2 linked regions of the Homo sapiens genome follow. The protein of the gene in region 2 interacts with the protein of the main gene of each other region in a pairwise test. Each region holds a gene or a part of one and is shown on either strand. Other genes may lie near its edges. The genes, in order: TPCN1 and TPCN2.

The links.
Region 1: the proteins of TPCN2 (region 2) and TPCN1 interact in binary tests that used the Homo sapiens proteins (3 or more experiments, as listed by UniProt).

The regions. Positions count from the first base shown.
Region 1 is NC_000012.12:113,294,327-113,299,223, reverse strand, and holds the end of TPCN1 (two pore channel protein 1), read right to left. Parts: intron 3,265-4,897; coding exon 3,148-3,264; 3' UTR 639-3,147; downstream 1-638. UniProt on the Homo sapiens protein: Intracellular channel initially characterized as a non-selective Ca(2+)-permeable channel activated by NAADP (nicotinic acid adenine dinucleotide phosphate), it is also a voltage-gated highly-selective Na(+) channel activated directly by PI(3,5)P2 (phosphatidylinositol 3,5-bisphosphate) that senses pH changes and confers electrical excitability to organelles.
Region 2 is NC_000011.10:69,051,848-69,059,122, reverse strand, and holds part of TPCN2 (two pore channel protein 2), read right to left. Parts: intron 5,091-7,275; coding exon 5,026-5,090; intron 4,403-5,025; coding exon 4,326-4,402; intron 3,949-4,325; coding exon 3,771-3,948; intron 1,546-3,770; coding exon 1,429-1,545; intron 1-1,428. UniProt on the Homo sapiens protein: Intracellular channel initially characterized as a non-selective Ca(2+)-permeable channel activated by NAADP (nicotinic acid adenine dinucleotide phosphate), it is also a highly-selective Na(+) channel activated directly by PI(3,5)P2 (phosphatidylinositol 3,5-bisphosphate).

The sequences.
Region 1 (4,897 bases), on a different chromosome or scaffold from region 2:
TCTCCTTGCCACGTTAATAAAGCCAAAAGCAGCGGGTGCTATTCGTGGCAACACACTTCACTGAACCCACTTGCTTCCAAAACGATGCCAGCCCGAGGCACTGCTACGCCAGCAGCTGCCACATGGGATGGTGGCTCAGGCGCTCCCTCCAGGATTCTGCCCCTGCCTGTCCACAGACTCCTTTGTGCTGGAACCTGGGCTCCTCCAGCTGCCAGGCAGGAGTCGGTAGGACTGTGCCTGTGCCTCCCTCAGCGGGGCCCTGGGCGGGGTTCCAAGGCCTGCGAGCTGGGAAAGGACAGATGAGGGGACCTCGTGCCTTCTTGCTGTCATGCAATGACCCCGCCTTATGTTGCCGAAATAAGCAACTCTTAGGTTTGCCTGACTGCCTTATGCTGGTAAAGAAAAGGGATTCAACTGTCTCTTTTCCAAATAAAAAAAAAGTCAAAATTTCAAGTGTAGAGAAAATGACACCCCCAACTTTTACCAGTTCTTCCTCACCTGGGGCCAGTGCCAAGTGGCTGACCCCAGGGCACAGCTCGGGGTGGGGCTGAGGCAGGATCAGGAATGGCCATGGCCTTGGATGGGGCCACTCTCCCGACAATACCCAAAGCCACAGAAGTCAAGAGGCAGCAGCCATGTTTACAAAGCAGAGGCTCTTTTAGTAATGTGCTAGAAATCCAGAGACACAATGGGTTTTCTAGGAAACAAACCACCAGTGTACAAAACCGTACAGCATTGCTCCCGTGATCCGTACAAAATGATTGTCCGCATGGTGGAGTAAGGCTGGGGCTGTGGGAGGGGAAGCGAGGAGCTGAGGAGGGGCACAGTTCTATTGCCACCACCACCAGGCTGTGCCCCTGGCCGCCAGTGGGTGCCACTTGGGTGCACTCAACTATGACATCAAGGATGAGAGGGCATCTGAGCTAGATCACATCCCAGGGCCCACAGAGCTCACAGCCTGTGGGGGGACCCCAACTCCCTGCTGGGTGGGGCCAGGCATAACCTGGGGATAGCTGTCCCTAACCTCAATGACAAGGGCACCCACCCTGGCTGGACTCCCGTCTGTTGACACTGCTGCCATTGGGTATTTGTCAGGTCCTGGCCAAAACCAGGTCCTTTCTCAGGACAGGGTTGGGCAGATGGACACATTAACTCGCTCTGGACAGGGCCGAGATCCCACTCCTCCTGGAATAGGCCCCCCCACCTCGGGGCCTTGACTCCCCTGGGCAGACCCCGGGGTGCTGCTGGCCCCTCCACGTTTCCACCCCTGGGGAGGAAGAAGGGCCCAGGCGAGGCCCAGATGCTCAGGTCAGAGACTCACACCTTTAGAAGCTGTCCCCTGACCCTTGCTTCCAAAACGCCCATTTCAACACACAAAAGCTAAAAGGCACCCAATTGTGCAATAAAGTTCCCTCTCTGTGAAAGGGAGGGGGTTCTGGCCTGGGGCTCGATGTGGAGCTCCTGCTGATGGCCCATGGCCCTCCAGAGAGGAAGAGGACAAAGCCAGTCTGACTCCCGGGGGAATCACAGTGAGTCTCAATAATGTGTTGCTTTCCCAAAGGGCTGTGCTTTAAAAACAAACACCTGCTACTTGTCCAACTCCCCTGACCTGGGAAGGGGGGAAGGGGAGAACCATGCCGTGCTGGCTATGGGACCCAGCTTGGCCTTGGAGGTGGTTGGGAGGAGGGGGTGGGGGACCAGGTACTGCTCCCCTGGGGTCGGGTGCCACCCTGCCCGTTCTGTGGCTGGGAAGAGGACAAGGCCAGAGGGAGGCTCTGTCCACCTGCCTTCTGAAGTCACAGGAAGCAGGCACCAGAGGGCCGGGGCTGGCCAGGAATGCCCAGCAGTGCACTCCTTGCCCTTCGCACCCTCCATCCTGCCACTGCGGCTCCTGCTGCAGAACCTATGCTGTGTTCCGTTCTGTGGCCCAGGGAAGCGGAACCAAAGCGACCTCTGCACTGACCCTGCCTCTGTGGCAGGGTCACTGCAGCTGGCAACCCTCCTACCTCCACCACGCTCAGATGTCATACAGGGCTCCTACAGGGTACCATGGTGGGAGGAGGGGTGGCGACGTTAACTGAGGTTCATCTGAACCTACTTCTGCACCAACCGCTCCTGCTATGGAAATCTCTGGTGTGAGCAGAGCCAGGGAGGGTGGCTGGGAACTGGGCCGGGGCCACGGGGCTGCTGCGTCCCACAGGGAGCGTCTCTCTGTGCTGTTCGCTCCTGTTCCTAGTGCACACGTGTGAAGGACCTGGTATCGGCTTTAGCACAATCCTTAGTTAACCAAAACGTTGTTTTGCTTGAACGGGTAAATCGCAAAAAAAGGGATTTGGTCAAGAGCCCATTCCACGAAGTGGTCTGGGTTGCAGACATCGGCCCCACTTCCTGCCTCATGCCCCTTCCTCCGGGTTCTGGGTCCCCAAGGAGGCCACTGTGGAAGAGTTTTCGCCAACAAGGGTTAAGCCAGAGAAGGCTGGGTGGGAGGCTTGCAGAGCCAAGGGAGGAGATTGGTCAGTGTAATCTGTGGCCGCCCGGCACTGGCTAACTGAGCTCTGGCCACATGGGCCCAGTTGCCCCAATTCCGCTTCCATTAGATCCTGGGCACTGGTCCCCGAAGAGGTGTTGCGTGACATTATCACAGACACTGAAATACCACCCTGGAGACCGGGAGTTCTTTCCTTCCTAAGTGGTTCTGTCCCTAAAGCAAAACACAGAAACCTGTGGCATGGGCCGCAGGGAGAGGGGGCGGGCACGCCATCAGGTCGGGGGGATGTGAGCCTGAAGCAGTAGCAGTGACAGCTTTGGACGTGGCCGATGGAGGCCAGCCCACATGAGGGGCAAGCCCCGCAGTCGACTGGATCCAGGTGAGGGGTCTCCTTGTGAAGGGCCTTCTGGAGCCTTCCACAGTAGGAAGAGCTCAGACCTGGTGGCCGCACCCCCACCCCTCACCAAACTGGCTTCTGGAGTTAAGGAAGACAGGGCAAGGTGGTTATAAACCAAGCCCCATCTTGTCTGTCTTTTTTCTTCCTGTATATAAATATGTGCATATACGTGAGTATGTGTACACACACCGCAGTTCCGTACATCGCAGTAGAGTAATACTATTGTGTTATTGCATAGAAGAGACGGCTTTCGGGCGCTGGGCTAGGTAACGGTCTGGGAGCGCTGGCGGCTGCCTGGGGGCTGCTGGGCGGCGGGGGCTGCACTGCTGCTGAGTTGTCGCTGCTGCTCTTGCTCCCTGGCATGCTCCTCATACCACTCCTGGAGAAGAGAGCAGAAGGGGTGCTGAGGGCTGCACCCCACCCCCTGCCCCGCCCACCCCACAAGGTCACACAGCCCACAGCATCCAGGCTGGAAGGGGCAGGGCTGCCAGCCTCACCCAGCTGGTACTGAAACCCCCGTCACAGGCCCAGAAATGCTGGGAATTTTGAATGTGGCCCCAGAGGCAAAAATGACAATGAAATCTTTCCCTAGTGTCTGGAGGTTTGCGCATAACAGCTCTCTAACAGGCCCAGGCAGGAACAACCCTCACCCCTTGTTTGTGAGCATAACCTTTTGTCCTTCACTAAAGGGCCCCCCGAGTGACCCCTTTTGAGCTTGGCAGGAATTGTGTCCCTGTTTCACACCCGAGACACCGAGGCTTAGAGCTGTATTGTGCTGAATACCTCACCTGCCTAAGGCCATGATTATAAACTCTGACATTTTCAGGGACTGAGGTATTCAGGTAATTAAGGAATTAAGTATACCCCACATTTCCTTTTTTTTTTTTTTTTTTTTAGGAGACAGAGATTCACTGTGTGGCACAGGCTGGAGAGCAGTGGCGAGGTACGGCTCACTGCAGCCTCCCACTCCTGGGCTCAAATGATCCTCCCGCCTCAGCCTCCCAAGCAGCTGGAAATACAGGTGTGCACCACCATACCCTACCCTACTTTTTAAAAGACTGAACCATAGACTTTTAGAGCTTCGAGATGGCCTAGTTCTGGCCCCCTTGTTTTACAGAGGGGGAAACTGAGGCCTGGAGCAGATGGACAGGCAGAAGGGCAGAGGCCAAGGGCAGCACACCTCCTTCCAACCACACCTGAATGGGTGCTGCTGCACAGTCATCCCCTTGCACAGACAGGGAGGCATGGAGTGACTGCCCAAGGTCAAACGCTTCTATTATTTCCATGTTTCTGTGACACCAAGTTCAGTGAGCCACTACACATCAGCCCAAAGAACACTGCCTGAGTCTCTTGTGTTCCCGGAGAATGTGTAAGCTGCTTTGGGGACAGCACCCCCCGCTTTTCAGGCATGGACCCTGGTTGTCACTGTTTTAGTGAAACAGAAGGGCTTCAAGCTATTAGAATGCCAGAAAACAGAGCAAAGCCACCATAGCTGGTGTGGGAGAGGCTCCCCGGAGCCCTGGCAACCCTGAGGTGGTTGAGAAGACTCTGCAGGGCTCATGGGCTGGTGGCCCATGGTCTGGAAGGCACCGTGCCAAATGCCAGCCCACACGGTGCTTTGTGAGATATTTTCCTTAGCTGCCAATATGTAAAGATTGGGAGGTCATGCAAAAAAAGAAAAACATCTGATTCTGCCTTTTTTTTTTTTTTTTGAGACAGAGTCTAGCTCTGTCACCCAAGCTGGAGTGCAGTGGCATGATCTTGGCTCACTGCAACCTCTGCCTCCTGGAGTCAAGTAATTCTCCTGACTCAGCCTCTTCAGTAGCTGGGATTACAGGTGCACGGAACCAGGCCTGGCTAAATTTTGTAATTTTAGTAGAGACAGGGTTTCACCATGTTGGCCAGGCTGGTCTCGAGCTCCTGGCATCAAGTGATCCGCCTGCCTTGGCCTCCCAAAGTGCTGGGATTACAGGCATGAGCCACCATGCCTGGCCTGCCTTTTCTTAAATTAG
Region 2 (7,275 bases):
CCCTGTGCCAGGTGAAAAACCCGGGCCAGGTGGGGAGCTGGCGGAGGCGAAGGGAGCGCGGAGCAGGTGGCAGAAGAGATCCAGGCAGGGCCCACGGCCAGGTATAAAACCAGGCCTTTATTCATTTTCTTCCTTGCTTGTAACGTAGACCTGTGTCTCTTTTTCCTGTCTCCTTCCCCATCCTAATTTCATATAAGGATTCTTGGTGTGGCTTACAATTTAGCCTGTAAGTTACAGAACATGATACAGCTGCCACAACCGTAACTCAGAAATGGCGGTGGGAGGGCTATCCTCGCTCCCTTTGCTGGGGCAGTCACGCAAGAGGCTCTCCCTTTGCAGGGAGGAGGCTGCGGGAAGCTGCCGAGTCAGGGAGACAGGAAGGAGGTGGCCACGGAGGCCCCGCAGCAGCACAGCGGGGCTGCCCTCCAGCCACCCTTCCGCTCTGCCGTGCTGTGGGCTGCGATGCCGCCCATTCCAGCTCTCCTCAGCAGCTACTCCCCACCAGGTCCTGCCAGCAGGGCCCTGGGGCAGGCGGGGACAGGAGATGCACTCACTAGGCTGTTCCTATCAGCTGCACCTGGAGCTTCCAGCCCCCACATCGGCACTGCTGGGACCAACCTCATTGAGCTTCTGGGAGGCACCAGCGCCCACCAGACAGCACCCCCTCCCAGAGGACAGAGGGCAAGAACCCAGCTCTATGGGCCCCTCCCTTGGGCCTCCAGGTGCTAACAACCCCCATCTCTCCCCCGTCCCCTGCCCATGAGTGGGACTGCTCCCGGTGGTTCTGGGTTCCACTGGGCTCCTTTCACTGTTGGTTTCTCGGAGCCTGTTTAAGGCCCTCTGTTCATTCTCTCCACAAGGCACCTGTGGGGCTCTGCTTCCCGACAGACCCCAGTGGATTCTGCTGACTCCGCACCCACCTCTCCCAGCTCTATTCTCGCAAAGCCCAGGGGGTGCTTCTGGGTGCTCTGAGGGGAAACCAAGGCACTGCGGTGGAAAGGGCTGAGTGTGGCCGGGTGAGGGGGCTTTCTCACTGTCAGACCTCACAGAGCTTGGGGCTTGTGACTACGGGGCATGGTGAGGCCCTGGTGTGGCGCTCTCATCCGGGGCTGGACGGCCGAGGCCTTCAGCTAGAGAGCGGAGAGCCGGGAGGCAGAAGTCTTGGAGCTCACTCCCAGGTCCGCCCTCAAAAACAGGGCGAGCCAGGAGGAACCCTGTGCCCGTCCAGGCCTCCATGTCTTCATCTGTGAGACAGGAACAAGGATCCCCAGCCAACAAGTGAAGGAAGTGCCATGGGAGGTGGGCAGTGCTGGGCGGGTGGGCAGGATGGCTGGCGGGCTCAGGGCTCCATCCCAGCACCCCCGTGGGCCTTGCACCCACACCAGCCCCAGATCTCTCCATCTGTCTCAGGGCTGCCTCACCACCTACCTCATGACACACGAGACTCAGGGACACGGTCCAGTCCACCAGAGACACCACCAGCACCACGAGGTAGCCCAGCAGCCAAAGGTTTTTCTGGAAATGGGCCCACCCGAACAGGTAACCCTGCAAGATAGACGGGCGGGTGAGCAGCAAGTAGCCCCACACGCTGGCCCTGCAGCCAGAGAATGACGGTGCGCAGCGCAGGGACCAGGCGACCAGAGCAGGGTGCGCCTCCACAACAGTGTGGTCCCCACGGGACGCAGAGCAGCAGTCAGGAGGCCCGAGCTCCCGCCCAAGCCTGCTAGGGACTCGCTGTGCAGTCTCAGGCAGCACCAAAGCTCTCTGGCCTGGGGTCCTCATCAGTAATGGGAGGCTCCTGCCTGTTCTGCCTATCTAACAACCACCTTGTGCAGGCTGAGAAGACATGGAATGCACTCTGGAAAAGGCTAGAAAAATACCAGCTCAGTGGGCAGGTCTCCGCCGCCACAGCAAGGCAGCTTGGGAAGTGAGGTCTGGTCTGTTCTTCCCTTACCTAACTGCCATTTCCCACCATCAAGAAAGTCCCCAGAAGGCGGTGGCTCACGCCTGTAATCCCAGCACTTTGGGAGGCCGAGGTGGGCGGATCACTCAAGGTCGGGAGTTTGAGACCAGCCTTGCCAACATGGTGAAACCCTGTCTCCACCAAAAATAGAAAAATTAGCCGGGCATGGTGGCAGGCACCTGTAATCCCAGCTACTTGGGAGGCTGAGGCAGGAGAATCACTTGAACCCAGGAGGCGAAGGTTGCAGTGAGCTGAGATCATGCCACAGCACCCTAGCCTGGGCGACAGAGCTAGACTCTGTCTCAAAAATAAATAAATAAATAAAAGACGGCCGGGCACAGTGGCTCACACCTGTAATCCCAGCACTTTGGGAGGCCGAGGCGGGCAGATCACAAGGTCAGGAGATCGAGACCATACTGGCTAACATGGTGAAACCCGTCTCTACTAAAAATACAAAAAATTAGCCAGGCGTGGTGGCACGCGCCTGTATTCCAACTGCTGGGGAGGCTGAGGCAGGAGAATCACCTAAACCCAGGAGGCGGAGGTTGCAGTGAGCCAAGACTGCACCACTGCACTCCAGCCTGGGCAACAGAGCGAGACTGTGTCTCAAAATAAATAAATAAAATAAAATAAAAGACAGCCCCCAGAGGTCACAGCTTGCTGATGTACCCTCTCTCACCTTTTGACACTTCTCAAACACACCAACCATTCAAAAAACGCTAATGACAACCTCTTGCCAGTTTCAGTTCCAGTTGAAAAACCCCCAGACCTGCTAACCACATGATAAGCTACAAAGGAAGAAATGAGAAACTGCCCGGGGCCTGCAATCACACACACCAGCATCCAGCCACAACCCTCGGTCGGCACACAGCCCGCCCTGCCCACAAGGGACTACAGGGCAGTGCCGGGCAGAGGCCCCACGCGACCAGGAAGCCACGTGAGCCCAAGGCCCAGCCAAGGAGCGGCAGGGCTGGCGCTGAGGAGGGCTGCAGCCAGGGCCTGATCTAACACCATGGGCATGGATGTGGGGGCCCCTGAGACCGCAGCACTGGAATCACTGTTTGACAAAAATAGAAAACGTAGCCTGCACCTCCCTGGAAAGGCACTAAGTCTCTGACGAGGCTCAGAAGCTTAGGTGAGCACCAAAGGCCCACCTCCAGCTTGTGGGAGGACGTGCGTCACAGGCAGAACCCAGAGTCAAACATGCAGCAGCTGCTGTGTGCATAAGAAACCCCTTTCTGCCCCACGCCCACCTCCTCTCCTCTTCTCTTTGGGGTGGCAGGGTGAGCCTTGAGGAGGGACCACCTGGGCCTCACTTATTCACTTGGGACCTCTCCTCACAGCAGCACTGCAGACACTGGACTGTTCCCAGAGGCCCTGTCAGCCTGCGCAACCCCTGACGGCCCACTGGGCTCAGTCTGCATGGTGGAGAGGGAGGAGAGCTGACGGCACACTGGGCTCAGTTTGCATGGTGGAGAGGGAGGAGAGCTGACGGCACACTGGCCTCAGTTTGCATGGTGGAGAGGGAGGAGAGCTGACGGCACACTGGCCTCAGTTTGCATGGTGGAGAGGGAGGAGAGCTGACGGCACACTGGCCTCAGTTTGCATGGTGGAGAGGGAGGAGAGCTGACATAGCCTCTGCCTCAGGCACTTGCTTGTCCAAGAAAGTGTGCCTTGCTCACCGGGTCAAAGTACAAAGTCTGGGGAAAAGGCAGCTCACTCCAGAGAATCAGCAATAAACCAGGAGAGCAGCGGCCAGGCGCTGGGAGGCCGGGGCAGCACGTAGAGGGCCTGGCGCCCGCCTCACCTTCACAGAGAGGTCGGCCGCAAAGACCAGCAGGCAGAGCACCTCGACACTCTCGGTCAGGCCGCAGGGCGGCTCCCAGGGAGCAGCGCGGTAGCGCACGTCCGCCGTGCTGGTGAGTGAGGATGGGGTCTCGATAAAAGCCAAAAACAGGATCAAGAAGATGGTGAAGCTCAAAGTCCTGGAAAGGGGACAGAAACATGAAAACACAGGAGCCAGCAGCCCTCAGGGCCCAGAGGCTGGTCAGGAGCTTCCCCAGTCCGAAGCACGGGAGTTGGCGCTGCCTGAGCGTGGACACTCGTGACTGGGGAGATCACGAATCTGCTCAAAGCTCCATTGCCGAGGGCTGACCACAGCATTCCAGAAAGGAACCCTTGTTGTAGAAGGAGCCTGCCATCACAGGCCGTCTCCTTTCCAGAGAGGATGATGGTAACCGCCCTATCTATGTAGTGGGGAGCCTGCCTGGACCCTGAGACCAGGTGATCCCCAGGTGGGGGCCAGCCTCCCCTGCCACGCAAGCCGGCAGGAACCCTGAGTTCCACATGGGTGCGTTCTCACCGTTGGCATACGTTCGAGTAATACCGTCGGTAAAGCCACATCGAGCTGGCATCCACCCGGTGGTTGATGGAGCGGTACTACAAGCGAAAAGTCACATGAGGCATGACATGGGTGCATGCAGGGTGGGCCGTGACCCGAGCCCCACACCACACACGAGACAGGCCCAAGTCTCAGGCTGTGGATCACAGGGGACGCTTCAGCGTGTGGACATGGCCAGCCCTGACCCATCAGGCCCACACCATCACAAACCACGAGGTTTGCCCAACACACAAGACCTCACAGGCCACACACCCGGGGTGGGTGGGTGCGTGAGCAAACACTCAGGGAACACTTGCTGAGAGCACAGCTGTGCCCGTGTCTGCCTGCGAGGCTCTCTCTTCTCTGTGCAAGGCTGACCCTCCCACGCCCCGTGCAGCTGTGTCATCCTCCAGGATGCCCCCACCCACCCGGGACCTAGAATGGGGTGGTCCACAACAGGCCTCAGAACACGGTGCATCAAAGCAGCAAATGCGTCCAGGATGCAGAAGACAAGTCCTCCGGGGACTGACGAAGAGCCGTGCCCAGAGGCTCCACCCTCAGTTCTCTTAACCTACAGTCCAGCAATGGAGGCCTTGGACCCAGTCAGTCGCCCCTGGAGGGGCGAGCCAATCGGAGGGCGGCCACCCCCCAGGCCCGGCCACAGGGAGCAGGTGCCACCGACCTGAATAGCATCTTCGATGAAGACCACAGCCTGATCAATGCAGAGGTCCCACCTGGCCGCGGCACCTGCAGGCAGAGGGGACACATCAGGTGACCGAGCAGGATGACATGGCCTCACCCTCCAGGATACCCGTGATCAAGGAAAGATGCCGGCTGTGGTTCTTCCCAAGGCCGTTTGTAAAGAGATGACTCCACCCGGCAGTGGGGCTGCATGTACCTGCCCAGGGCAGGGACCAAACCAGGTAAGTGCCTCGGCATCAAATGCACAGGCCAGGCCCAGGGCACGGCACCTCCGCATGCAGCGCACACAACTAGCAAGCCTGTGGGAAGCGGCACATCCTGCAGGGCCCTGGCACCAGCGTCGGGGTTCAGAGCCCGGCTCCTCCACGTGCTGGCAGGAAGGCTGTGGCTGGCTCCTCCTCTGTCAAGTGGGGCTATTTACAGCCACCCAATCGGCTCCCCAGAGGGTACTGTGAGGTGCAACGCAGGAGCACAAGAGCCCCCTGCCACGCTCCCCAGGCATGCTCGGTACATGGGGCTGCTGTCACCCCTCTTCCGCTCGGCCCTACCTGGCTCCTGCACAGTCTTCATGAGCCAGGACACTGTACCCAGTGTCCCACCCACCCCCATCAAACCAGACCTCGGATTCAACAGTGACAGGGAGAACTGGCATCTAGAACCCAAAGGCACTGCCATGAGGCTTCATGAGTGCTACCAAGGTCCCATTCCCTCACTGTCCCGGTCCATGGGCCCAGGCAAGCCCACCCAAATCACTCCCAGGGTCAGAGCTGCAGGAACGCCCGAGTCCCCCAGCCTCTGCCGGTGCCTTCTGTGGTGAAGGGTGGCCGCCCGCCTTTACCAACAGCACAAGCAGGGTGGAGCCTCCCGGCAGGCCTGGGCAAAAGCGGCAGTGGCTCCTGACTAGGAGGGGCCTTCAGGAAAAGTCAGGCGGCACAGAAGCCAGGACCCAGCACCCTGGCCTGCTCACAAGCCCCTCACCTGCCACAGAGCAGCCAGCGGGCGCACCTGGTCAGCCACTGAGCCACTGCAGGGAGCCTGGGCCACCCACCCGCATCGTAGGCACGGGCCACCTCTGGCCTCGCTGCAGAGCTGCTCCCCAGCAGGCCAACAGGGAAGGAAAACTCAACCCGAAGCAACTGAGGAGCCCGGAGAGGCTGACACTTCCCAGCACGGGGAGAGGGTGAAGCAGCTGCTTTTTCAGTTGAGACTCGGCTTTCACACCTGGCCCCTTGGGGCCCACAGCTGCACCAAGACAATGTGGTGACATGGGAGGCAGCAGCAGAGGCCTCAGGAGGTGCTGGTCCCCAGGCAGAGCTCCAGGCCATGACCCGCCCACGCCACTGGCCATCCTTAGGGAGGCAGCTGCCCCTGTCCTCGGGGCTCCTGCTTGGGGGCATGAGGTATAGGCAGCTGGGCCCTGGACGGATTAGAGGTGTGAGGGGCCCCAGACAGAGGCAGGAGACCGGACCCCACCCTCACTCTGCCCGGCCCTGCTGCACTGCCGGGAGCAAGAGCCTTCCCTCCCTGTGGCTTTGGTGCCCACATGCACAGCCACGAGACCCACCCTGAGGACACCCGAATGTCTCCCCAGGGAAGCTCTGAAAGTGGCTACTGTTTATGTCCCCTGAGCACATCCTGGGATCGCTATGAACAGAAGCCACACTGTTTTGTTCCCTGCTGTATCTGCAGAGCCCAGAAGTCAAGCACACAGGACTCAAAGCTGATATATCCCATGAATAAATGAACAGCCCTGAGGGGAGCCTGGGGGGCCGGTGATCTGAGAGGCCCCACCTTACCAGATTCCCTGGGAGAAGACAAAATCTCTACCAGGAGAGATCTAGTGATACAAGCTTCTTAGACAAGAGACAAGCGGCCGAGTTCCGGGCCTCACTCCAGCCCCAGGACCACGGAAAGTACTCACATCCACCCAGGCCAGCCATCCCAGGCCAACAGTGGTGGGCACCCCTGGAACCATCCAGCACTCGTGGTTCCCTTTCGCCTGGCTTTTTGGTTGCTGGTTTGTAAAATTCTGGGTCTGGCCATCCTCCGTTTCACCCTGCAACAGCCCAAGGATCTCGTTCCAAACACTCAGAAGCACATCGCAGCTTCCCCTGGGCCCCCACTATTCCAGGCCCACACTCCACCCTGGTCTGGCACTGCAGGTTCCCACATTTGCCGGCCCGCCTCTCTCCTGCCTTTCAACCCTCAGTGCCACTCATTCCGAACTGGG